4 linked regions of the Homo sapiens genome follow. The protein of the gene in region 3 interacts with the protein of the main gene of each other region in a biochemical or structural test. Each region holds a gene or a part of one and is shown on either strand. Other genes may lie near its edges.

Region 1 (6,869 bases), on a different chromosome or scaffold from region 3:
CAGCCAGACACCGGAGGGATCATCCATTTAAAGGCCTCGCAATCTAGAGGCCGGACTCCTAATGAAGTAACATGACTTTATTGTTCCAATAACAGGCACCTGGATGGAGCACCTAAGGGAAGTGTTCAGAAAGACATGTTTGTTGAGAGTTCTTACCGTGAAAAAATAAAAAGATTTGATGACTTTTCTAAGATAATGAATTCAGAAGCATCTGGAGGTTTCAGTGTTTGGCCTCTGAAGGAGGGCTTATAGGGCTTTTTATAAGTCCTAAAGCACGTAGGTTCTTTTTGTTATTCCCAATTGGTTGCCTTGTAGATTCCTACTAAAACCCTTAATGAAAAGGACTATGCGCTATGGTTGTTCTAAAGAAATAGAAGTAATAGTAGGACTAGAGAAAGCTGCATGGGACAGAGTAGCACTGTCAGAACACAGAAAGGTGAGTATCCACTGCTGAGGAGCAGATCTCTTATCTAACATACGAAATGTCTTCATTTGACAGACAGGAAGCTGAAAAAAAACTTTGGCATTTTTATTCAGACACGTATAAAAACAAAACAAAAAACTTCAGTGATACAACAGACGTTTTCCCTTAGTTCCCCATCCAAGGGGACAGAGGTGTGCAGCTGAAGCTGGATCTTTTTTCTGTCCTACCTGGAAGCTTCTCACTGCTGGATGAGAATGGCTTCTAAAAGTGGATCTTGGGGATCCTTGTGAATTTGCCCTCGGATAAGGAGTGAAGATCATTTACGGCACATGTGGATTATGGTTTACACAAAGATGTCCAGTTATTTTTCCTTCTGACTACCCCCACCACCACTTCCTGAGATGAGATGTCTAGGTATAGGAGGATGTGGCTGTTGGGGTTAGACTTGATTCAGTGCAAAAACAAGAAACAGTGCCCCTTAAACAAGGGCTGTAACTTAAATCAGTTTTTCTTGGCACCTTACAATAAGAGCACATGCACAGGAATTGGGAGGATTTTGCATCCTGGATCTACTGCTTAATTTATTTCATCTCTTTAAGGCTCAGTTTCTTTTTTTTTTTTCCCCTGTAGAGACAGTGTCTTGCTATGTTTCCATAGGCTTATCTCTAATTCTGGGCTCAAGTGATCTTCCCATCTCAGCCTCCCAAAGTGCTGGCTGGGATTACAGGCATGAGCCACTGCACCCAGTTCTAAAGTTTTTTTTTTTTTTTTTTTTTTTTTTTTAAAGAGATGGGGGTCTTACTATGTTGGCTAAGCTGGTCTCAAACTCCTTGCCTCAGGTAATCCTTCTGCCTCAGCCTCCCAAAGTGCTGAGATTACAGGCATGAGCCACCATGCCCGACTTCCCTTTGTGTAAAATGAGATAATATGTATGTCACAGAATTGTTTTAAGGATGATAAAGGACTAAGTGAGATAATGTAGGTGAAGTTTAGTATGATGCCTGGCTCATAGTTAAGTGCTGAATTATGATAGTAATCAATATCTACTCCTAACCTCTTTCTTCACAGATTTTAAGCTTCTGTCTTTCTAGGGGGTTAAGAGTCATAAACCAAAATTACACTTTCCTCTGCTAGGTTTCCTCCCTTTCCTCTTCTTGACAGTCTGATGGGAAACAAAGGCACACATAAGAGCCTAGTTCCAAGTAGTCAAGAGCCTGAGAGGAAGGGATATGGAGAGTAATCCTTCATATCTCCAGGAGTGCCTGTGAAGAAGCTGAGGAATGGGACTGGGAAAGCACACAAAATAAGGAAAACCTTTCCTGGGGTTGGGAAAGAGAAGAAAGTGCACAGCTGGCTACATACCATAAGAATTTTGTGTCAAAATGTTTAAAAGCCTCCAAAGATTGAATGGAATTGTCTGGGACTGGGGAAAAGGGGCTGGGACCTGGGAGAGAGAGGGAATAGGGAGAAGACGGTACCCTCTAAAGGCACTAGCTGCCATTAAATGCTCCCTGAGTGCCACAGGGAGCAGGAGTTACGTTCTCTGGGCATTAGCCTTGGGGAAAAGCCTGCTATGCCAGTAATCAGGGTTATCAAAGGCAGAGTCTGTAGCCTCTAAGCTACGTAGAGTTTTTAGGCGGGCATAATGGACATGGGGGGCCTGATGTCCAGGCCCCTGAAAAGCTCTCATCTCTTCATACCCTTGCTCAGATGCTGGGCAGGCCCCCATGGCTGCATAATCACCCCCAGGACCACCTCCATCTCGTTGCCGATTCATATATTCATAGTCTTCATCTGGAGTTGTGCCTGCAGTGGGCATGATGGGTACAGGGTGGAGTGGGCAACTCTGTGTGCTGCCCAGAGAGGCACTGAGGTCTGACCCCACATCCATGTACTCATAACCCAGCTCCTCAAGGGAACTTGGCCTAGGGGGATGAGGTGGACTGTGCCTTCTCCTCCGGTTCATGTATTCATACTCCTCATCTTCATCTTCTTCTTCAGTACCCAGGACAGAACTGAGACCCACTGAAGAAAGGGTGCCTTCCCGGGAGGAGGGAGTACCTGGGGGTTGAGAAGAAAGGCTAGGTATGTGAAGAACTTCATGAGGGTAGGGGAAAGTTTGAAAAAATTAATAGGACAGAGAGGCATATGATCAGAGAAGAAAAAAGAGGAGCCCGGGGAAAGAATTCGAGGAAAAATTGAGGAAAGCCCTAGGAAGAGTCAGGCACCTTTGAGGTGTGTATCTGGCATGACATAACCGTTGACATCCTCTTCCTCTAACCCGGGTGGGGAGAGTGGGGTAACAGGAGTCAGCAGACTGTGGCGCTGGGAATGGTAGGCGCTATCTCCGCGTGGCCGTGGGCTCCGGCTCCTGCTCCGGCTCCTACACATTGACACTTTCTCCTGGAGCTCAGCCTCAGAGCCTGTTACATGCCCCTCTGATGACTCTGATGCCAGGCATCCCCGTGGCATTGGGTGTAGAGAGACTGGACGGGGGCACCGTTCACTGCTCCCAGAAACTGCAGACTCCTAAGGAAGAAAATAAACAGAAAATAATGCAAGGAAATTTACATGATGAGGAAAGAAGAGAGATTTGTTTAGAAGGATATTGGGTTGTTCACTGCCTTTTTTTTTTTTTTTTTTTTTTTTTGAGGTGGAGTCTTGTTCTTGTCGCCCAGGCTGGAGTGCAGTGGCATTATCTTGGCTCACTGCAGCCTCTGCTTCCCTGTTCAAGTGATTCTCCTGCCTCAGCCTCCCGAGTAGCTGGGATTACAGGCACCTGCCATCATGTGCAGCTAGTTTTTGTATTTTTAGTACAGACAGGGTTTTGCCATGTTGGTCAGGCTGGTCTCGAACTCCTGACCTCATGATCCGCCCACCTCGGCCTCCCAAAGTGCTAGGATTACAGGCGTGAGCCACCGCACCTGGCCTTTTTTTTTTTTTTTTAAGAGACAGGGTCTTGCTCTGTCACCCAGGCTGGAGTGCAGTGGTACAATCTCAGCTCACTGCAACCTCTGCCTCCCGGGTTCAAGCGATTCTCCTGTCTCAGCCTCCTGAGTAGCTGTGATTACAGGTGTGCACCACCACACCCAGCTAATTTTTGTATTTTGGGTAGAGACGGGGTTTCACCATGTTGGCCAGGCTGGTCTCAAACTCCTAACCTCAGGTGATCCACTCTCTCTGGCCTCCCAAAGTGCTGGGATTACAGGTGTGAGCCAACTCGCCCGGCCCTCACTGCCTTCTTTTTTGCAGGACACTGATTAAACCTCAGAGGTTTCTAATGTCTTCCATACTACTCGTATCAATCTGATCCTAAAACCCAGCCTCTCAGCAACAGAACTTACCTGGCAAGACTCCCCAAGATTACCCTGGTTCATGGGCATGTATCCAGATGATGGACTTAAAAGGCTCTGGCTCTAGGATGAAAAAATAAGGAAAAGGTTAAGATGAAGGGAGAAATCTACATTCACCATGGGGGCCTTTGAGTAGTTAATCTGGGTATCTGTAGGGTTTGTGAGGGCTCAGGGTGCAAAGTGTTGGGTAATTAGAAGTTGTCTTACCCCACGTGGCCGATTAAGTGTTCCAACTGGTAGGCTGAGGGCGGAGCCCAGTGTGGTGGTTGCCAGGTTGTCCTCCTCTGCTTCCAAGTCTAGGTCTAGGTCTAGTTCTGGCTCCAGCTCTACTTCCTCTAGCTTCTTGTTTGTCAGACCATGGGGCTCTGGCCCAGGGGCTATTCCAGGCCCACTCTCTCTCTATATCGATAGGTGATTGTTAGGGGGAATCCTGGTTCCAGCCAACTCCTCCTTTTTCTAAATTTCCTTAGCACCTCCTACTCCCTACTCACCTTTATGACCAGATACCGTGGTGGGTCTCGGGCCATCCTGGTGAACTCATTGGCTAGTTCTTTAAAGGTTGGGCGAATGTTCTCATCAATCATCCAACCTGGAGATAAGATGTAGGAGGTAGAGACATAAAAGAGAATACATTCCATGGCCGGGCGCGGTGGCTCACACCTATAATCCCAGCACTTTGGGAGGCCAAGGCGGGTGGATCACCTGAGGTCGGGACTTTGAGACCAGCCTGGCCAACATAGTGAAACCCCATCTCTACTAAAAAGACAAAAAAAAATTAGCTGGGCGTGGTGGTGCACGCCTAAAGTCCCAGCTATCTGGGAGGCTGAGACAGAAGAACTTAAACCTGGAACGTGGAGGTCACGGTGAGCCAAGGTCACGCTACTGCACTCCAGTATGGGCAACAGAGCGAGACTCCATAAAAAAAAAAGGAATAGAGCCATAAGAGGAGTACAGAGGGAAGTCAGAAAATGGCTGCAGTCAGGCCGAGCATGATGGCTCACACCTGTAATCCCAGCACTTTGGGAAGCTGAGGCAGGCGGATCACCTGAGGTCAGGAGTTTGAGACCAGCCTGGCCAACATGGTGAAACCCCATCTCTACTAAAAGTGTAACAGTTATCCAGGTGTGGCGGGCGCCTGTAATCCCAGCTACTCCGGAGGCTGAAGCAGGAGAATCTCTTGAACCCGAGAGGCGGAGGTTGTAGTGAGCCAAGATTGATTGCACCATTGCACTCCAGCCTGGGTGACAATTGTGAGACTCTGTCTCAAAAAAAAAAAAAAAAGAAAAAAAAAGAAAAAAAGAGAAAATGGTTGGGCTCAGCAGGTAACTCACACTTGACCATCACCATGTAGACATCAATTGTGCAGATCTGGGGCTGTGCCAACCGCTCCCCCTTCTCTAGCAGGTCTGGTACTTCAGCCAATCGTAGCCCTGCATAGGGCTCTGCCCCGAAGGTCATCAACTCCCAAACTGTCACACCTGTTGCAGGAAGACATGGACTAGTCACTGGCAAAATAGTAGACATGGGCATGAAGTGAAGGGAAGGCAGAACCTGATCTAACACAAAAATCTGAAGTGCTTAGAGATTCTAAGAGGGGGTCTCAAAAGGTAAATTTGAAACTGGGGCCAGTGATGGTAGAGAGGGCATCCAGATGCACTGACCATAGCTCCAGACATCACTCTGGTGTGTGTATTTCCCAAAGTGGATACTCTCAAGGGCCATCCACTTAATTGGAGTCTGCGGATTAAAGATAGAGGTATCACAAGTTTATTTCCACAAATTTTCTTAGGATTTCCAAGTCCCAAATTCTTTTTTTTTTTTTTTTGAGACGGAGTCTCGCTCTGTCGCCCAGACTGGAGTGCAGTGGTGCGATCTCGGCCCACTGCAAGCTCCGCCTCCTGGGTTCACGCCATTCTCCTGCCTCAGCCTCCCGAGTAGCTGGGAGTACAGATGCATGCCGCCACGCCTGGCTAATTTTTTTTTTTTTTGTATATTTAGTAGAGACGGGGTTTCACCGTGCTAGCCAGGATGGTCTTGATCTCCTGACCTTGTGATCCACCCGCCTTGGCCTCCCGAAGTGTTGGGATTACAGGCGTGAGCCACCGCGCCCGGCCAGTCCCAAGTTCTTGATCATTATTTTATTTGTTGCCCTCTGAACTAAAATATCTGGCATCTGCAGCCTTCTCTCCTTGAACTTACCATGAAGCATCTGCTTGCCTCTGGAAGAGACCACTGGCTGCTCCCTATCCCCATGCTTCACTCCACCCCCGCCTCCTTACCCTTTGTGTCTCCTCACCTTGGCCTCACTGTATAGCAGCTGCTTATCATCAGGAGGCAGCAGGTCAGCCACACCAAAATCTGCCACCTGAACCTGACTGGGTGACTTGAGTAGCACGTTTCGGGCAGCCAGGTTTCTATGCACCATACCATGTTCCTCAAGGTAGTACATTCCCTGTAGGTATAGGGGAAGAAAGTATTCTTAAGGTTGGGGGAATCAGTCACTGAGATCTGGAATTCCCCCAAATCTTGAAGGTACCTCTCAGCAGTGGTCCCCAACCTTTTTTGGCACCAGGGACTGGTTTTGTGGAAGACAGTTTTTCCAGGGGAAGGGGAGGGTTGGTTTTGGGATGAAATTTTTCCACCTCAGATCATCAGGCATTAGTTAGATTCTCATAAGGAGTGCACAACCTAGATCCTTCACATGCACAGTTCACAATAGAAGTCAAGCTCCTAAGAGAATCTAATGCTGCCCCTGATCTGACAGGAGGCGGAACTCGGGCGGTAATGCAAGTGATGGGGACTGACTGTAAATACAGATGAAGCTTCACTCGCTTGCCTGCCGCTCACATGCTCTGTGGCCTGGTTCCTAACAGGCCATGGACTGGTACCAGTCTGCAGCCCGGGGGTTGGGGACCTCACCTCTCAGAACTTCAACCTTCTCACTTTTTCCTGGCTGGCCCCCAGACAAGCAGTTCTTATCACAGAATTCCTCCAGGCTTCTCTCACCTTGGCAATTTGTACTCCCCAGTTGAGCAGCAGCTGTGGCCCCAGTGCCCCCCGGTGTTGTCTCACATGATCCAGCAGAGAACCCA
Region 2 (7,028 bases), on a different chromosome or scaffold from region 3:
TTCTAAAGAATGTGCTTTTACTGCTTTCTCAGTTTATTCCAGCCATTATCTATTGCCTGAAAGGTGAAGATTTAGTTTCCCCCGACCTATACCAGTAATATCACATATTCTGGTTTAATCAGTAGTATGTTATGAAATACTACTCACTGATAATTTAAATAATGCACTAAAACCAATCATACTTTTTGTGTTTTTTTTTTTTTCTTTTTTGAGATAGAGTTCTCTAAGATTGCCCAGGCTAGAGTGCAGTGGCATGATCTCGGCTCATTGCAACCTCCACCTCCCAGGTTCAAGCGATCCTCCTACCTCGGCCTGTAGCTGGGACTACAGGCATGTGCCAACAAGCCTGGCTACTTTTTATATTTTTAGTAGAGACGGGATTTCACCATGTTGGCCAGGCTGGTCTTGAACTCCTGGCCTCAAGTGATCCGCCCACTTTGGCCTCCCCAAGTGCTGGGATTACAGGCATCGGCCGCTGTGCCTGACCCAATCATACTTTTTTGTACAATCCTTAGATTTTTCCCAGCATTAGCAACTGCTTAATGTTCTATTTTTTACTTGCCTAGTTCCCTGTGTATCTACTTTTACTTTTTCTTTTCTCTTTTTTTTTGAGACAGGGTCTTGCACTGTTGTCCAGGCACGAGTGCAGTGGCATGGTCATGGCTTACTGCATCCTTGATCTCCTTGGCTCAAGTAATCCTCATGCCTCAGCTTCCCAAGTAGCTGGAACTACAGGTGTGGGCCACTATGCCCGGCTACTTTTTCTATTTTTTGTAGAGACAGGGTCTCACTATGTGAGACCAGTCCAGTATAGCTTAGTGTTGAATTTGCATGGTCTCTAGAGGCAGGCCCCTCACGCTAACTGCTACAATTTTGGGCAAACTTTTCAAACAAGCTCCAGTTTCGTCATCTGTAAAATGAGAATAATATCTACCTTTTAAGACCCAGGCTGGTCTCAAACTCCTGGCCTCAAGCAATCTGCCTGCCTCGGCCTCCCAAAGTGCTAGGAATACAGGGGAGAGTGAGCCACCACGCCCAGCCCTATTTTTACTTTTAATGAATGCTCCAAAATCTCTCCTACTATCAAGATTTTCCTCAGCCTATTTATTTTAACTGGTCTCTAATGCCGAGACTATGTATTAGTGATAGGAAGCTGAAGAATATTTACAATGATAGGAAAAGAATAAGGAGTTTTATTTTTGAAAAACAGAAATCAGATAGAAATGAAAAGCCCTGTCACTTTCAAGGTGCTATGTAGTACGACCAGCCATAAGCTTCTGTGTCATTCAGGATTTAAGACAGCTGCAATGTTACTACTCAACAGCAGTACAAAAACCAAGACAGTTCTCAATACCTGCTTTCCTGCTGCTACTCAGCTCATCTGCTGAAAGCTTAAAAAGAATAACCTTCTTGAAAGTCGTGTTTTGAGTAACTATTGCTTTGTGAGATGCAGAGTTTGACAGAAAATTAAATCCCTACTTCCATGGCTGTGCTGAGTAAAAAAACAGAAAACTCAAAGAGGAAAGCTTATTAGGTTATCCACCCAAAAGAGCATATTCGCTAAAGGAATTCCAAAGGGTGTGTTTCAGTAAAGACAAAAAAAAATCTAACACATACACAACACTAATTACTAAAAGGAAGAAATCTGAAAGCAGACACAATGTATAATGATTTTAACAGAGTAGATGTTGCTGTTCACTTCCCAAGAAAATGGGGTATAGTGTACTTAACACTGAAGCCTAATGAGAGTAACCTCGAAACTGTTACCAGCCCATCCCAAGCAGTGAATTTTAAGAAAGGTAAGTACAGCTTTAATCATTCATTTCAAACAATGTCTACTGTATCCAAAAAAACTACTATCCTAAAGGTATTTGCAAGATTTTTTTTCTTTCTTCCATTTAACTCTCTTCTTCCCAAAATTCACAGAAAATAAAATACATGACAACAGTCCAGTATAGCTTAGTGTTGAATCTTCATGGTCTCTAGAGGCAGGCCCCTCACACTTACAGCTACAGTTGTGGGCAAAGTTGTGAAACAAGCTCCAGTTTTCTCATCTGTAAAATGAGAATATCTACCTTATAAGATCCACTGAGGATTAAATTAGACAACATATATAACATACATTAAGTGCTCTGGATAGAGCCCGACATGTAATAATCACTCAAAATTTATTTATTTATTTATTTATTTATTTATTTATTTATTTTTTGAGACAGCATCTAGCTCTGTCGCCCAGGCTGGACTGCAGTGTCACGATCTCAGGTCACTGCAACCTCCGCCTCCTAGGATCAAGCAATTCTCCTGCCTCGACCTCCCAAGTAGCTGGGACTACAGGTGCGCGCCACCAAGCCTGGCTAACTTTTGCATTTTTAGTAGAGATGGGGTTTCGCCATGTTGGCCAGGCTGGTCTCAAACTCCCACCTCAGCCTCCCAAAGTGCTGGGATTACAGGCATGAGCCACTGCACCCAGCCTTCAAAAGAAATTTTAAATGTTACTCTATTTAAAACATATGAAAAGAAATGCAAATTAAAACAATCAGAGTTTTCATATACTAATTGGCAAATTTTAAAAATATTTATAAAATCCAATCTGCAATACTTTGAGTAAACACACTTTTATTTATTTATTTATTTTTCAGAAAGGGTCTCACTCTGTAGCAAAGGCTGGAGGGCAGTGGCGTGATCTTGGTTTACTGCAACCTCCGCCTCCTGGGCTCAAGGGATCCTCTCACCTCAGCCTCCTTAGTGGGGACTACAGGCACCAGCCACCATAGCCTACTCATTTTTTTTTGTAGAGATGGGGTCTCCCTATGCTGCCCAGGCTGGTCTCAAACTCCTAAGCTCAACAGATCTGCCTGCCTTGGCCTCCCAAAGTGCTGGGATTACAGGTATGAGCCACCGCACCAGGCACAAAGACTTTTTACCCTACCCGGTGTCCACTGACTCAACATTTTGAGAAGTTACTAACTGACAATGTGGCTTGGTGTTACATTATAATAATAAAATCACCACAGAACCCACACTACAGCAAGGAATTAATGAGCTCAGCTCAATCTTTTTGGTGAGTTCTTTGGTAATCTATTGACAACTTTTATTTATTTTTATTTATTTTTTGGAGACAGAGTCTTGCTCTATCCCTCAGGCTGGAGTGCAGTGGCGTGATCTCCGCTCACTGCAACCTCCACCTCCTGGGTTCAAGCGATTCTCCTGCCTCAGCCTCCCAAGTAGCTGGGATTACAGGTGCCTGTAACCATGACCAGCTGATTTTTCTATTTTTAATAGAGACAGGATTTCGCCATGTTGCCCAGGATGGTCTTGAACTCCCGACCTCAGGTGATCCGCCCACTTTGCCCTCCCAAAGTGCTGGGATTACAGGCGTGAGCCACTGCGCCCAGCCTATTTACTTTTATTATTTGAGACAGAGTCTCGCTCTATTGCCCAGGCTGAAGTGCAGTGGAGCAATCATGGTTCACTTCAGCCTCAAACTCCTTGGCTCAAGCCATCCTCCTGCCTTAGCCTCCCAAGTAGCTGGGACTACAGGTGCACACCACCATGCCTGGCTAATTTTTGTGTGTGTGTGTGTGTGGTGACCAGGACTCACCATGTTGCCCAAGCTGATCTCAAACTCCTGGACTCACGTGATCCTCCCCATCTCAGCCTTTCCAAGTGCTGGGATTACAGGGGTGAGCCACCACACCTGGCCTTGACAATCTTTTCTTTTTTTTTTTTTTTTTTGAGATGGAGTCTCGCTTTGTCACCCAGGCTGGAATGCAGTGGCACGATCTTGGCTCACCACAACCTCTGTCTCCTGGATTCAAGCCATTCTCCTGCCTCAGCCTCCCAAGTAGCTGGGATTACATGCCCCCACCACCACGACTGACTAACTTTTGTATTTTTAGTAGAGGCAGGGTTTCACCATGTTGGTCAGGCTGGTCTTGAACTCCTGACCTCGTGATCCACCCGCCTTGGCCTCCCAAAGTGCTGGGATTACAGGCCGTGAGCCACCGCGCCCGACCAACAATTATTTATTTATTTTTTTGAGACAGAGTCTCGCTCTGTCGCCCAGGCTGGTGTAGTGACGCAATCTTGGCTCGCTGCAAGCTCCGTCTCCCAGGTTCATGCCATTCTCCTGCCTCAGCCTCCCGAGTGGCTGGGACTATAGGTGCCCACCACCACACCCGGCTTATTTTTTTGTATTTTTAGTAGAGACATGGTTTCACCATGTTAGCCAGGATGGTCTCGATCTCCTGACCTCGTGATCCGCCTGCCTCAGCCTCCCAAAGTGCTGGGATTACAGGCATGAGCCACCGTGCCCGGCCCTGACCGACAATTTTGAAATATTAATACATACTCTTTTTTTTTTTGAGACAGGGTCTTGCTCTGTCACCCAGTCTGGAGTGCAGTGGGTGCCATCTTGGCTCACTGCAGCCTTGACCTCCCAGGCTCAGGCCATCCTCCCGCCTCAGCTTCCCAAGTAGCTGGGACTACAGGTGTGTGCCACCACACCTGGCTAATTTTTGTAAATACATACTCCTTTTTTTGAGATGGAGTCTTGCTCTGTCACCCAGGCTGAAGTGCAATGGCACGATCTCAGCTCACTGCAATCTCCGCCTCCTGAGTTCCAGCAATTCCCCTGCCTCAGCCTCCCAAGTAACTGGGACTATAGGCGTGCACCACCATGCCTGGCTAATTTTTGTACTGTTAGTAGAGATGGGCTTTCACTAGGTTGGCCAGGCTGGTCTCAAACTCCTGACTTCAGGCAATCCACCAGCCTTGGCCTCCCAAAGTGCTGGGATTACATGCATACCACCATACCCAGCCTCATGCTCCTTTTTTCTTTCTGAGACAGAGTCTCGCTCTGTTGCCCAGGCTGGAATGCAGTGGTGTGATCTCATCTCACTGTAACCTCCACCTCCTGCGTTCAAGCGATTCTCCTTGCCTCAGCCTCCCAAGTAGCTGGGATTCCAGGCGTGTCACCACCACCTAATTTTTGAATTTTCTTTTTTTGTGTGTTTGTGTGTGTTTTTAATGTTTGTATTTTCAAATAAAGACGAGGTTTCACCATGTTGGCCAGGCTGGTCTCCAACCTCAAGTGATCCGCCCACCTCGGCCTCCCAAAGTTCCAGGGTGACAGGCGTGAGCTACTGTGCCTGACCAATACATACTCTTGACCAAGCAATTCCACTTCCCAGATTTATCTCACTGAAACAATGAGACAAAATACAATGTGCAACATACACATATACACCCACACCCTTGATCAATATCCATGAGCTTGTGTATGGAGTATCTACATAAATACCAGGATATATCAATTTTTTTTTTTTTTTGAGACGGAGTCTTGCTCTGTCGCCCAGGCTAGAGTGCAGTGGTATGATCTCTGCTCAAAGCAACCTCCACCTCCCGGGTTCAAGCCATTCTCCTCAAATTTTTAAAGCTGCAGAAAAATTATAGTTTATCCTATTTCTGTAAGGCAAAATAATACATCAGTATGTGCTTAAAAAAAAAGGCTAGGCCGGGCGCAGTGGCTCACGCCTGTAATCCCAGCACTTTGGGAGGCCGAGGCGGGTGGATCACGAGGTCAGGAGATCGAGACCATCCTGGCTAACAAGGTGAAACCCCGTCTCTACTAAAAATACAAAAAATTAGCCGGGCGCGGTGGCGGGCGCCTGTAGTCCCAGCTACTCGGGAGGCTGAGGCAGGAGAATGGCGTGAACCCGGGAAGCGGAGCTTGCAGTGAGCCGAGATTGCGCCACTGCAGTCCGCAGTCCGGCCTGGGCGACAGAGCGAGACTCCGTCTCAAAAAAAAAAAAAAAAAAAAAAGGCTAACAATGGTTATCTCTGCTAGCGAGATCACAGAACACTTTTACTTTCTGCATGATACACCTCAATTGTATTTTCATTATTTTTACAATAGGCATGTGTTACTTTTGTAGTTACAACACAAACCAAAAAGCTTACTGACGCTCTGGAGTTAGACTTGGATTCAAATGTCACTTTCCACTTACTAATGAGGGGACACTGGAGAAGTAACTTATACTCTGTAATCCCTAGTATCCCTTAACTGGAAAATGGGAATAATAACAGCCAACTACCTTATAAAGTCATTTTGATAATTAAAAGAGATAATGGTTGTAAAATGCTTGGCAGAAGTCTCTGGCTCTCTCCAAAAGACTGAGCTAACTAATTATCCACTATAGTGTGGGCTGTGATGATTTTATTATTATAATGTAGTATAAGCCAGAGACCTTAACTAGTATTTTCAGTCTCTTTTCAAATACTAGCCTACATGTTCTAAGAGTAAATGTGGAGCTTCCATCTGCATAGGCAGATATCCTGATGAAACCATCATCAGTTGAAAATATTGTTACATGGAAATGCATTTTAATACACCTAACCTACCAAACACCACAGCTTAGCCTAGCCTACCTTACCTTAAATGTGCTCCAAACACATTAGCCTACAGTTAAGCAAAATCATCTAACACAAAGCCCATTTTATAACAAAGTGATGAATATCTCCTGTAATTTACTGACTATGGTACTGAGAGTGAAAAACAAAACAGTTATATGGGTACTGGAAGTATAGTTTTTACTGAGCGCTATTGCTTTCACACCACTGTAAAGCTGAAAAATCTTTCGTCTGAGTCTACAGACTCAGAAGAATTCTCTGGTAGGCAAATTAATGACCCTATTAAGTATAAATTTCAAGTTAAATCACTCCACATCACAGTATTAAGAATGCTAAAAAATTTACACATGTAAAAATGAATCATGCTTATAGTCACTCATTCCATTAGGCTATTCTAAATACTGACTTTGTGTATACACAGAAAAATGTAATTTTAAGTTGAATTACTTAAAGCCACACAGCAGTCTTATTATTTATGGCTGCATTTGGTAACAACAGTTTTGATCCTTAGACCATCTGTATCAAAATCCACCCATTCAGAGACTGATTCACTGTGGGGTACATCCTGGAGTTCTACCAGAACCTAATTTTAAAAAGATCTCCCAGTGATTTTTATG
Region 3 (7,028 bases):
GAAGAACCATCACCAATCCATCACAGCATTGCTGTCCACTGGGTCCAGACACAACCTCAGAGTCCTTTTTAACACAGTACTGCAGCACCCAGGCCCAATCTGTCAAGACAGACTTATAAGTTGAACAATATCTGCCACCTTGTGAGAGGTTATAAGACAAAGATAATAAGAACTTAATACTCGTAGACTTTTTTGTGTCTCAACATTGCTTCTTAATAATCATTACATTTGTGTTTCATTTGTTTAAGTGAGAACAATCCCTGTATAAAGCATTATCACATCAAGGAAACAAATGACAATCCTAAGCGATACTATGTGGCTGAAAAGTATGTGTTCGATTCCATCCCTCTTCTCATCAACTATCACCAACATAATGGAGGAGGTAAGCTCTAGAGCAGGGGTGGACCCGGGCCGCCCAGCAGGAGGTGAGCAGCAGGTGAGCAAGCATTACTGCCTGAGCTCTGCCTTCTGTCAGATCAGCGTCATTAGATTCTCATAAGAGTGCAAGCCCTATTGTGAACAGCACTTGTGGGATCTAGGTTGTGTGCTCCTTATAAGAATCAAATGCCTGATGATCTGAGATGGAACAGTTTCATCCTGAAAGCAACCCCCTGCCACATCCCTCCATGGATAAACTGTCTTCCACAAAGCCGATCCCTGGTGCCAAAAAGGTTGGGGACTGCTGCTCTAGAGGACAAAGCCAGAGGGCACCTGGGTTAGACTTTTTTGAATTGCTATCAAGGAATACCTGAGGCTGGGTAATTTATAAAGAAAAGAGGTTTAATTGGTCCATGGTTGTATAGGAAGCATGGTGCCGGCATCTTCTTGGCTTTTAGGGAGCCCTCAGGAAGCTTTCAGTCATGGCAGAAGGCAAAAGGGGAGCAGGAGTATCACATGGCAGGAGCAGGAGCGAGGAGGGAGAAGATGCCACAGACATTTAAACAACCAGGTCTTGCATGAACTCAGAGTGATAACTCATTTATTATCACAAGGACAGTGACAGCACCAAGGCATTTGTGATGGATCCCACCTAATGACCCAAACACCACCTCCCATCCCACCAGGCCCCACCTCCAACATAGGGCTTTTCTTTTCTTTTCTTTCTTTTCCTTTCTTTTCTTTTCTTTCTTTTTTTTTTTTTTGAGACAGAGTTTCGCTCTGTTGCCCAGGCTGGAGTGCAGTGGCTCAATCTTGGCTCACTGCAACCTCCACCTCCCAGGTTCAAGCAATTCTCCTGCCTCAGCCTCCTGATTAGCTGGGATTACAGGCATGTGCCACCACATCCCGCTAATTTTGGTATTTTTTGTAGAGACAGGGTTTCACCGCATTGGCCAGGCTGGTCTTGAACTCCTGACCTCAGGTAATCTGCCCGCCTCAGCCTCCCATACTGCTGGGATTACAGGTGTAAGCCACAGTGCCCAGCCAGGGATTACATTTCAACATGAGATTTGGAGGGGACAAACATCCAAACTATATCAGCACCCACACAGGAGACTTAATGAAAACTGGCAAAAGCTCGCCCTGGCTTCTTTTTGACTATAAATAATAAATAAATATACAAATAGAAAAATATGACAAATATTTAATTATATTATATATCTTCTATTAGCAAGCTATCTTGTGGAAATAATGGAATTTTACCACTTGCCCATCTGTGCTTATGATGTTTTCAAGGAGGATATGATATCAATAATTAGGCTTTGGGATTTGTTTTCCAGAATAAAATTAGCTTTTGCGTCTGATGATGATTATTATTTTTTTTAGTGATTTAAGTTAGATGGTTGCTAGAGCAAAGCCCTAACCACTGCTTCTTGGCTTTTCAATCAACCCAGGCCTGGTGACTCGACTCCGGTATCCAGTTTGTTTTGGGAGGCAGAAAGCCCCAGTTACAGCAGGGCTGAGATACGGTGAGCAGTACAATCAGGAATGTAAACTCATGTCCCTAAAGGTCTGGGGCAAATTCTGAATAAACTGGCCATGAGCCTACCTGTTCCTCAGACTACAAATCACCATTAAAACAAGTGTATTATATATCTAGAGATGATGGCACTAATGAATATTTACATTGTGTGTAAGAGAAGTACATATACAAGCACATTTCTCTAGGTCAAACCAGTGGCCATTGGTTTTAGTGAAGAGTTCATTAATGAAGTGTTTATTAAGCACCTACTTTGTACAGAGCACCCTACTAAATGCTATTAGAAAAATATTAGAAAACCATGCCTTAGCACTGTGTTTCCACCTATCTTCTAGAACTTTTATATCATCTAGTTGGTTGAGTAGCAGACTATTGCCAGAACTGCAAGTTGAGAGCATCTAGAAGTGTTTCTCTGCATAAGAGAGTGTTAAAATTCTTTGGAATACCTTTAGGCGTGGCATGATCTCCAGTGCCGCAGCCCCTACTATGTTTTCTTGCCCTACGGAATTGCTTCACTCACTTGGGATTACCTGCCTGGACTCTGAAGGCATTTGGCTTTGCATCCCTTGGTCCCAACTGTGTGCTGCCTGTGGAGAAGGCTGGTCTAATTTTCATTTCTTATCTCCTAGCTTGGTGGTTCTCAAATTTCAGTGTGCATCAAAGTCTTCTAGAATGCTTATTAAAAATGTTGACTCCTGGCTCCTATCCAAACACTCACCAAAACACAATCCTTGATAGGGTCCTGGAGTCTACTTTTTTTTCTGGCATGATCTCCCTCTGTCACCCAGGCTGGAGATGCAGTGGCGTAATCATGGCTCACTGCTGCCTTGACCTCCTGGGCTCAAGCGATCCTCCCACCTCAGCCTCCCAAGTAGCTACTATGCCTGGCTAATTTTTAAAAATTTTTTGTAGAGACAGGGTCTCACTATGTTGCCCTGGCTGGTCTTAAACTCCTGGGCTCAGGCAATCCTCCTGCCTCAGCCTCCCAAAGTGTTGGGATTACAGGCATGAGCCACTGTGCCCAGCTGAGTCTACATTTTAAACAAGCATGCTAGGTGATTTTGATACAAGTGGTCAGAGGGCAATACTTTGAGAACCACTGCCACGCATGGGCTTCTTTATCCCTAACCAGCACCGTGTCCGGCACACAGTAGGTGCTCAATACTGCCTGCTGTTGAGTCTCTGCCTCAAAGCAGTGGAAATCTGGCTGTTTAGGTACCAGACCAAGCACTGGGGAAAGAGTGCCTCTTTAGCCTCCTTATGAAAATAAGGGTATTCTAATAAATGTAGAATCTTGATGTGTCCGTGCTGGATGGGATTTCAGATATTACCTGGTCAGCCTACTCATTTTGTTGGTGAGGAAATTGAGCCTCGGAATCTCGTATTTGTTTGTTAAACATTTCTTGAGAGCCTCCCATGTGCCAGACACTGTGCTAGCTTGTGCCTCTGCACAAATTCTCTTTAAATCTTTCTCTTTAACTGCCCCTCTGCCCCAGTAAGGCCTAATAGGGTTATGTGTATATAGCAGGTGCTCTTAATAGATGAATGAATGAAAGAATGATCAGCTCAATGAAATTTACTTAGTGTGAAAAATGACATAGAAAAATGGGACATTGCAAGAACCCTTTCTTTAATATTTTGATTAATATGGTTTCTTTAATATCTTCATTAATGCCACTCTCCTTCTTTCCATGTTACCTTCCCACACATATTTTCATAGTTTTCTAGCATATCCTATGTTATTATGTGGGAAAAAGATAATTTATTTGCCATCTTTGAATTATATTAACAATAGGCTAAAATTCTAGTTAGGGCTTTATAGTCCCCTGGTATCCCAATACCTTATATCTACTGCTTGCTGACCCCAGAGAACTCTCTCTCTCTCTTCCAGGGAAATGGGTGATCGACCCCTCAGAGCTCACTTTTGTGCAAGAGATTGGCAGTGGGCAATTTGGGTTGGTGCATCTGGGCTACTGGCTCAACAAGGACAAGGTGGCTATCAAAACCATTCGGGAAGGGGCTATGTCAGAAGAGGACTTCATAGAGGAGGCTGAAGTAATGATGTGAGTGCTCAGAACAAGGATATGCAGAAACTCTGGGGGGAACATCGGTTCAGTGTTCTTGAAATGCCATTCAAACGCCAGGGGGTACTATCTCCCTGCGCAAACTCCCAGCAGTGGCTTCCTATTGCACAGAGAATACAATCAAACTCTTCACAGTGGTCTCCAAGGCCCACCATAATCTGATCATGCCCACCTCCCCCTTCTCAGCTCCTACCCATCTCTCCTCCAGTCCATGACATGCCAGCCACACTGGCCTCTGCTCATCTTCACACACACAGCTGACTCCTTGCCATTTTTCAGGTCTCAGCTCCAATGACATGTTTTTGTTTTGGGGAGGGAATGAATATTATTTTCATCCAAACCATAAATTAGACAAAATGACCATTGGCTATTTTGGTACCATAATATTTTCGGCATTTTTGGGAGACTGAGTTTAGGCCATCTCACCCCTTGTCTTTTTCCTCCAGGAAACTCTCTCATCCCAAACTGGTGCAGCTGTATGGGGTGTGCCTGGAGCAGGCCCCCATCTGCCTGGTGTTTGAGTTCATGGAGCACGGCTGCCTGTCAGATTATCTACGCACCCAGCGGGGACTTTTTGCTGCAGAGACCCTGCTGGGCATGTGTCTGGATGTGTGTGAGGGCATGGCCTACCTGGAAGAGGCATGTGTCATCCACAGAGACTTGGTATGAGCATGCAGGGTGAACACCCACAGGTCCAGGGTAAAGGGACAGTTCTCACTGAAATGACTGGGAACGCATTAATAAATAATACATTACAGATAATCTCCTTTCCTTTCTCAACTTCTCCCTTCCTTCACCTACTTTGGGTGGTCCTAGTGGAAAGGGCTTCATGAGGACTTACTTCTGGGCTCTGATCCCAGCCCAAACTCTTTCACCTCCTGCATTTCAGTTTATATTCTTCCAAAATGGAGATAACTGCCACTCCTTCTTAACCTCTCTGTGACTCAATTTCCTCCTGGTAAATTGAGGAAACTGAGTTTGTCTGAAGGTATTATTCAAGGGTCTACCAGAATCACACTGGGGAAGCCCTTAAGCTACTCTCAGAATCTCTGGTGGCTGGGACTCAGGAATATTCATTTTAACACATTCCCCGTATGATTTGTATGCACATTAAAATTTGAGATATGCAGCTGGGTGCGGTGGCTCATGCCTGTACTCCCAGCACTTTGGGAGGCCGAGGTGGGCGAATCACGAGGTCAGGAGTTCGAGACCACCCTGGCCAACATGGTGAAACCCCATCTCTACTGAAAATTCAAAAAATTAGCTGAGCTTACTGGCGGGCACCTGTAACCCTAGCTACTTGGGAGGCTGAGGCAGGAGAATCACTTGAACCCAGGAGGCAGAGGTTGCAGTGAGCTGAGATCAAGCCACTACACTCCAGCCTGGGTGACACAGTAAGACTCCATCTAAAAAAAAAAAAAAAAAAAAAATTGAGACACACTGGAGTGTTATCTCCAATGGCTTTTTCAATGCAACAGTCTATAATACTAATTAGGGGTCAGGTACTCTCCCTATTGAAGAACAGTTTTAAGAGGATTAACAACATCAAAACATTCTTAATTTAGTCAACTGGGAGATGCTTTCTTCCTGTTATCCCTGATGTTAACATTTCCTATCACATCAGGTTGCATTAGAGCCTATCTTTGGTTAGACAACACCAAGGATTTCTAATTAGAACTCAAGAATGAAGATAAACTTACTCATCTTGATAGTGGATCTTACACATTCAACTTTCCAGTTAACTTCCAGCGGCATTTGTGAGGCTTAATTAACATTTGTAAAGCTCCATGATGCCCTTGTATGACAGCACTGCAGTAAAGCAAAGGACTGTGATTATAGGAGACTCCTTAACTACTGATGACTCATCAACAGTTTTCCTCTCCGCCTTTGTTTGCCTGTCTCCTCTCCAGGCTGCCAGAAATTGTTTGGTGGGAGAAAACCAAGTCATCAAGGTGTCTGACTTTGGGATGACAAGGTAAAAGAGGGATGTGGTGCCGGTGAAGTCTCAGGAATGGGACTGAGGCCCCCGGAACATTCTGACCTTCTCCCTCCACTCTCTTCCCAGGTTCGTTCTGGATGATCAGTACACCAGTTCCACAGGCACCAAATTCCCGGTGAAGTGGGCATCCCCAGAGGTTTTCTCTTTCAGTCGCTATAGCAGCAAGTCCGATGTGTGGTCATTTGGTGAGTGTCATGCTGGGCCCCACTGCCCCATGATCTGGGCTTCAGGCCAGCTGTTTCCTTTATCAAATGCAGACAACCCTACCCACACTGAACCCTGTATCATATCATGAGGGTGTCCCACTGGAGGGTTGTGTAAGAAAGGCCCCGAAAACTATGAAAGGGCCTTCATCATTTTGTTTGTTTTTAGAGATACTGGACATGGTGGTGGGAGTTAATTAAAAGTGGAAACAAGAGTTCTGGTGCCAGCTGCTGTGAAGTCAAAAGCTGGAGAAGTCAGGAGATTCAAATATGAGCCCCTTGAAGGCAGGGACCATGTTTTGTCCAACACTACATTTCCATACTTATCTCTCAATAAGTATTAATATTTATTCATTCATTCAACAACAATTAACTGATCATCTATTCTATGCCAAGGGCTAATCTAGGTGCTGAGGATGCAGTGGTTCATAGAACAGAAAAGACTTCTGTTCTTTTGGAACTAAATTTGAGATGGGAGGGGAGACAGAAAATCACAAAAGATCATAATAACAGTCATAAACAATAATAATAATAAACAAGCTAAGGGATAGAAGATAAAGCCAGGCAATCATAAGTAGGTGCTATGAATAAAATAAAACAGTAATGGGGCAGAGTGACTAGGATAGAGAGAGGGTCTGCTTTGAATAGTGTGGTGTGGGAAGGCCTTTCTCAGAAGGTAATTCTTCAGCAGAGACTTGAATGATAGGAGGGAGCTGTCACCATTTGAAGAGCCAGGGAACAGTGTCCCTGACAGAGGGACCAGCAAGTGCAAAAACTTGGTGCATCCAAAGAACAAGGGGTACTGACTTATTGGGAGAACAACA
Region 4 (6,538 bases), on a different chromosome or scaffold from region 3:
CCAGCCCAGCTGAGTTATCAGCATTTCTGGGATTGAAAGAGAAACCCTCAAGGGCACCCAGAGTTGGCTGAACTGTCATGCCTAAAGGCAGATGCTGTCCCCTTCTGAGCTCACAGAAATTATTTGGTGTCACACTTTAGAGCCACCTAGGGGTTCTACAGAAGGTGCAAACCAGGCTGGCTTGCACTTTTAAATACTGAGACCTATCTATGGAAACCAATCCAAGTTTCAGCTCAGTTGAGTTGAAAACTCTCCATAAATTAGAATTTTTGATAGGATTGGATACAACAGCTTCCAACAACTTCCAGGGGGTGAAAAAGCTTTGGTTATTTTTAAACTAAAACTTAACAACTCCATCAACTTTTTTTTGGTAAACTTAAAATAAAATCCCCCCCACCACTTTTAAGAATGTTTCCAACTTTTAACAAGCCCATTAACTTTAGAGTTAATTTAAGTTTATTTGAAAGAGAAAACTATTTTATGGTCCACCCAAAAAAATGACAATTCATCACATTTACTTTGATTAAAAAAGGACTAAACTTTATTGACAAACTGCTGCAGACATTTTGACATAAGTTTAAGCTACCTATTTAGGCAGACTTACACATGTAGCATTTAATCTTCCGAGAACAAAATGGGAGGACGGTACAAATCCAATTAGGACTTTAACTTATGTACAAAGTGGATTTTGATTCCTTTTTCATTCAGCTGCAGTGTCCCTTTTTATATCATGCTAGTGTTGAGACATACTTGACTAACTTGGGAACAGTTCGATATATTGACAACCGTCAACTTAAGAAAATCAACAGCTTTTGGCCCCAGCGTCCAAGTGAACTTTTCATGGAGTGCAGAATCTCAAATGGACAAAATACTTTGTCTTTTTAAATACTGAAAATTTAATTATTAGTACTATGACTGAAAGATTCTTCATGGCTAAAAAGCTCTGCATCAAACTCAATTCAGGAGGCCTTCCCTCCCCACCACCATCAACCTCTTCAAAACCTACTCCCTCCCTCTAAGTATCTCTCAACACAGTATGTCTGGGGCTAGATTTCAAAACCCACGTAATGAAAAAGTCAGTTTTACAAGCCTAATTTTGTTGTTTTTTTTTTTATATCAATTAACGTTAAAAATTGCATCAACTATTTAATTCATGAGGATCTTTCATATTAAAATTTAACCTTAAGATTCAACCGCCATGTGCTTTTATAAAGGAAACATTTTTTAGAGACGTCTGAGCTCACTTTTACATGGTGGTGCCTACTGCCGTTAATGTTTGTGATTTTAAATCTTAAACAGCCCTGAATTTTGAAATGTAGCCTAGTTTGGGATTCTGCAACTACAACTTTACGGGATGCCTCAAATCAAAACTAAGAGAAACTTAACAAGCCTTTACTTCAGAACCTTTAAGCAAGCAATGTCATTTTTGAAACTAACAGGTTTGTGTGTTTTTTTTTTTTACTCAACTTCTTTTTTTTATTATAAAAGGTACACTTCTGTTTATATTTAAACAACAAAGAAAAAAGCATCTACACACTTAAAAAATTAATTCAATATTCCTAAATCTATTTTAACTCATTTTAAAATACTACATACAGAAGCCAGAATGCAGAGTTAAGAATGGAATAAGGTGGGGAGAAGAAGGGGACCACGAAGAAAAACACTTAGACAATTACTTGTCTGTTGTGGGTAAAGCAACAGGAATCCTGGGAGATACAAGAAATCAGTAACAACTTTGCTCATAACTGATATTTTCCCCTCATGTTTGTTTTTAATAACGTCCATATGGGTGCTCTCTGTATGCTCCCTTCACTGGCCTAGCAGGAGGGGCCTTCAGCGACGGCCTGGTCCCATTCCAGTCGTCCTGGCCTGTGGGGAAAACAAAGACAGTTTATAAACCATGTGGCGACAGCACTTAGGGATAAGCAGGGATAGGTCACATAGTAAAGATCACCAAAAACACTGAGTTTCTTCTAATGTCTTGACACTTCCCCTGGTGTTCCTTGCTCTCTACTTGGCTTGGCCCTCTTGGGCAGCCTGGGCAATTTTTCAGTTTTGAGTGGAAGGACAGAAGGGAACAAATCTAAAAAGGCTGCCATTGACTCTGGAGTAATCTCCCACAACGAGGTTCTTCATAGACAAATGTGATCTGTACGCCAGTCCCCAAACCTGGAGATACCCAACACCTTGCTTGAGATAGTGAGGAACTCATTAATCTTAGTGAGTCTGCAATGGCCTTTCCTGTTCCCAAAACAATTTGGCAGGCACCCTCAGGTAAGGTGGGAAGACTTCTGGAAGTCTTTCAGATTGGAAGCAGGCAGCCAGCCCCACTTCCATGCAACAGCAAGTCACGTTTCCTTACGGAGAAGTGTCCTCTAGCTCCCTGGGAAAACCAAGCAAGGGCCACTTTCCATGGGGCCCTCCACCAGCAGAGCTGATACTGCTCTCTCTGGTAGAGGGATGTGCAATCAAATGTTGCACTGACAGCACTGTTTAAGATAATTCCAAGGCTGCATGCGGTGGCTCACGCCCGTAATCCCAGCACTTTGGGAGGCCAAGGCAGGCAGATCACAAGGTCAGGAGTTCGAGACCAGCCTGACCAACAGGGTGAAACCCCATCTCTACTAAAAATACAAAAATTAGCCAGGCGTGGTGGCGCATGCCTGTAATCCCAGCTACTCAGGAGGCTGAGGCAGGAGAAGTGCTTGAACCTGGGAGGCAGAGGTTGCAGTGAGCTGAGATTGTGCCACTCCACTCCAGCCTGGACAACAGAGCCAGACTCCATCTCAAAAAAAAAAAAAAAAAAAAAAAAGGATAATTCCTTATCTCCTTTCTTAAGTCAACAGGTGAGAGAAGCCAGAAGCCAGACAATGTGGTTCACATCCTCAAATGGTTCTCCTTTGTGACAGGGAAAAGCCTGAGGAATATGATCACATAATTCTAGAGGTGACCTCTTATGAAAATAAATTGCGTTAAATTTATTCTTCCCACACCTTACACACGCTAGTTCATCCCTGAAGTATTTTTCCAGCTGCCTGTATTCACAAGTATCTGCCTCCATCTCTATAGGCCTCAAACTCCTATACAGATCTAAAGTCACACAGAACCCTAATTATACCCCTAGTATAACACACATGTCCATCACTTTCCAAGTGGCTTCTGGGTATCAACAAGACAGTTTCTTTTTCTTTTTTTCCTGACGTATACAGATCATCCTGGACAGTTTATTTCTCTAATTCTGTTAATCAAAGCAGAGATCAGAACGGATTAACTGTGGCAACGTCGTATCAGGAGCACAAAGAGAAGCCTGCCTCTTTCAGTTTGGTCTTTTCTCCAGCAAAACAGAAATGCAATTTAGTCAAACACATACAGAGGCCCCACTGTACTGCCTCACTGATGGAGGGAAATACTTGGGTGCAATCACACACAGTGTTAGTGATTGGCAACTGTCCAGTGCTATTTCGCTAAAACTGGTAAAAACAGTTTCCTTGGGCAAGCAGCTGATTGGCTACTTCATACTGTGCTGAGTTGGGCTCAGCTTGTCTGTCTCTGGGAGGCCCTAAGGGGCTCCTCTTTTTCAGCTAGGGATAAGGGGAGACTGTCAACCAGTATCTTAGCGTGAACTGTCAATCGCTGAGCCCCTGCCAAGGACTCTCTGGAAGTCCCTCAGGTATGCTGAAAATACCTTATACTGAAAAGGTAGCTCTCGCTGCATCCACTGCCACATAGTATTCCCAGTGAGGCCTATTAACACAGGGCCATAACTGGCTCTTGAGGACACACTTGAGCGATGTGTTTTTAACCAAACCTCAGGGAAGGCAGCCTTGTCCTGCTGCTGTTGCAGCCTCCATAGCTCTCTTGGGATCAAGGACTGTGTTGATGTCTTCAAGCCAACAAGGAGCTTGGTGCCAGTACTGTCCTGAATTATTGGCTCTAGCCCCTACAGCCTCTAATCTGATTCTAATAGGCACTATTTTTTTTTTTTGAGACGGACTTTTGTTGCCCAGGCTGGAGTGCAATGGCACGGTCTCAGCTCGTTGCAACCTCCGCCTCCCAGGTTCAAGTGATTCTCATGCCTCAGCCTCCCAAGTAGCTGAGATTAAAGGCGCCCACCACCACACCTGGCTAATTTTTTTGTATTTTTAGTAGAGACAGGGTTTCACCATCTTGGCCAGGCTGGTCTCGAACTCCTGACCACAGGTGATCCGCCTGCCTCGGCCTCGCAAAGTGTTGGGATTACAGGCATGAGCCACCACGCCCGGCCCTAATAGGCACTATTCTTGCCCCGCAACCTGGTCTGGCTAGCTGCTTGCCATCTAGGTCCCTTTCAGCTGACATTTCCTTTACAATGACATTCTTTTCAATGAGATCTAAATTTTTTTTTTAATGAAATGGGGTAGATGAGTACAGTTGTGTACGATTAAGTTCTTGTTATCTACCAAAGTGGCCTAGATATCGGCAGCAAAGGCCCAGAAATACAACCCAGGTCTAGCTATTTCCCTGCCTAAAGTAGAAAAAAAATAACATTAGCTTATAAGTCTGCTGCTCCAACCAGGGCCAAGCTGGTCTTGAGCCCTTGTTTAAGACAAACACTACCCTTCCAAGAGTAACGATACCCCACCTCACTTTAGCAGTCCCTCTTTCTACCATGTACCGCAAAATTTAAGCAAGAGCAGAACTCTTACTGTCACATCTAGCAAAATCTTGGCCTTCTAAAGGTTTATCCGTAGGTGTGTTTGTCTGACTCTCAATACTTTAGTCACCAGCATTCTCCCAGGCACTTACTTGTACATTCTGCCCCACCACAGAGATAAAGACATACCATAAGCTTCATAAGAATCTTGAACCTCCCCATGTCCATAGTCATAATATTCTGAGTCCCTGAAAGCCAAAGGCAGAGTGTTAGGAAGCTACAGAGTAACTATGTTTCAACTTTCTCTCAAATACTTCCATAAGTCAGTCATTTTACTAAGTGTATTAATACAGGAAAATACTCATTCTGCCCCATCCCTAAACCGTAAAGTATTTCCAAAATATGTATAGACTATGTACTTATAAAATAATTGACAACTATTGCAAAGAAAAATGGATACCACAGAATATAAAGTGAAAAAGCACAATCCTAAATTGACCCTTTTAATATAGCATATATATACATGTATTCATAGGGCTCACCAGAAGGAAAAAAGAACTGTTTTATCACTGCTGTAGAATTCTGGAACTCTTTTTCAATCAATTCACAGGTAAGCTATATATATGGACACACAAGGAAATGGTCTTAAAGAGAAATGCAGAAAAGAACCTAAGTTATGGTAATGGAATTCAAGTTTCTTGTAAAATTTTATGGAGCTTTAATGTGGTTTTGATATTTTAAAATAATAAATCAAAATAACATAAAGGCATTTCTCCTTGTTTCCATGTAGTCACAGCTTGGAAATTTTTCATTTGTTACTCTCAGGTTCTAAATTATAATTTAAGGTTCACAGTTATCCAGATTTACAAATCCAAGTGTGTGCTTCACAGATGTCAAACGCAGAGGAAAGCATTGCATGGTGGCACGCACCTGTAACCCCAGCTACTAGAGAGAGCTAAAGTGGGAGGACTGCTTGAGCTCAAGAGTTCAAGACCAGTCAGGACTGTGGGGGTTGCAGAGGAGATACCCTCAAAAGGCGAACCATTCTGCTCCTTAGGGTTGTACTGTCTAAATCTCTCTGTTCCTCCAACTCCCTCCATCCATCCTCAGGACAAAAAACAGTGCTTATACTGCCTGACTCACCCTTGACTCTGGCTGTAATAGCCTTCGTAGCCTTCGTAACTTTGTTCTGCGTATGTATCATCATATCCCTAGAACAACAACAACAAAAAAATGAAATAAAAGATCAAAATCATAGAGAGTAGGAAAGGTAATTACATCCCATGGGAGTAAGTAGGCTTCTGAATTAAAAGGACATGACATTTCCCTCCAAAATGTTAATGCCTACTGTAGAATAGTCAAAAGAGAAAGGGTTACTAAACAAAGAAAACCCAAACAAATATGATATGCCACAGAAGAAGTGTGGGCAGGAAGTAAAGTACAAAATCGAGCTTTAGTATTATCAGTACTAGTAGTAAGAAATTCATTATAAAATACTACATTAAAGTACATTTTATTTCTTGTTTAATCTACAGGCGTATAGTAAAACCCTGCCTAAAATGGAAAAATCTTCTAATAGTTCAACATTCACTGCAAGAGAAGAGGGCAGATTGCAAATCTTACAGGCAGTCCATGACACCTACATAAAGGACCGAGGCCCTGTCATTCAACTTCCTTTAGCAGCCTTCTAGGTACTGGGAAATGGCACATTGTTCAAATTTCTTACATATTCTTCATATGTTTCTGGTGCAGGAGGTGGAGGCAAAGGTATCCTCTGGATGCCCGCTGTCCGTGCTCTTGGTGCTGGAGCACCCCTCACAGTAGGTGGGGGTGGCACGCCTCGAGTCACAGTGGCACCTCTGGTGATGGCTCCCCTTACTGGTGTACCACGTACCAAAGCCCCCC

Evidence for each region.
Region 1: the proteins of ITK (region 3) and ERBB3 form a complex in vitro, tested with the Homo sapiens proteins (2 studies listed by BioGRID and IntAct, with this or other methods).
Region 2: the proteins of ITK (region 3) and GRB2 form a complex in vitro, tested with the Homo sapiens proteins (2 studies listed by BioGRID).
Region 4: the proteins of ITK (region 3) and KHDRBS1 form a complex in vitro, tested with the Homo sapiens proteins (4 studies listed by BioGRID, with this or other methods).

The regions. Positions count from the first base shown.
Region 1 is NC_000012.12:56,097,145-56,104,013, reverse strand, and holds the end of ERBB3 (receptor tyrosine-protein kinase erbB-3 isoform 1 precursor), read right to left. Parts: coding exon 6,784-6,869; intron 6,230-6,783; coding exon 6,074-6,229; intron 5,515-6,073; coding exon 5,439-5,514; intron 5,256-5,438; coding exon 5,109-5,255; intron 4,367-5,108; coding exon 4,269-4,366; intron 4,177-4,268; coding exon 3,985-4,176; intron 3,841-3,984; coding exon 3,769-3,840; intron 2,954-3,768; coding exon 2,653-2,953; intron 2,486-2,652; coding exon 1,959-2,485; 3' UTR 509-1,958; downstream 1-508. UniProt on the Homo sapiens protein: Tyrosine-protein kinase that plays an essential role as cell surface receptor for neuregulins.
Region 2 is NC_000017.11:75,395,651-75,402,678, forward strand, and holds part of GRB2 (growth factor receptor-bound protein 2), read right to left. Parts: intron 1-7,028. UniProt on the Homo sapiens protein: Non-enzymatic adapter protein that plays a pivotal role in precisely regulated signaling cascades from cell surface receptors to cellular responses, including signaling transduction and gene expression.
Region 3 is NC_000005.10:157,239,814-157,246,841, forward strand, and holds part of ITK (tyrosine-protein kinase ITK/TSK), read left to right. Parts: intron 1-248; coding exon 249-382; intron 383-1,832; coding exon 1,833-1,907; intron 1,908-3,809; coding exon 3,810-3,981; intron 3,982-4,448; coding exon 4,449-4,665; intron 4,666-5,912; coding exon 5,913-5,977; intron 5,978-6,067; coding exon 6,068-6,186; intron 6,187-7,028. UniProt on the Homo sapiens protein: Tyrosine kinase that plays an essential role in regulation of the adaptive immune response. Regulates the development, function and differentiation of conventional T-cells and nonconventional NKT-cells.
Region 4 is NC_000001.11:32,037,858-32,044,395, reverse strand, and holds the end of KHDRBS1 (KH domain-containing, RNA-binding, signal transduction-associated protein 1), read right to left. Parts: coding exon 6,360-6,538; exon of another isoform or gene 6,277-6,359; intron 5,845-6,276; coding exon 5,777-5,844; intron 4,882-5,776; coding exon 4,823-4,881; intron 1,870-4,822; coding exon 1,772-1,869; 3' UTR 519-1,771; downstream 1-518. UniProt on the Homo sapiens protein: Recruited and tyrosine phosphorylated by several receptor systems, for example the T-cell, leptin and insulin receptors. Once phosphorylated, functions as an adapter protein in signal transduction cascades by binding to SH2 and SH3 domain-containing proteins.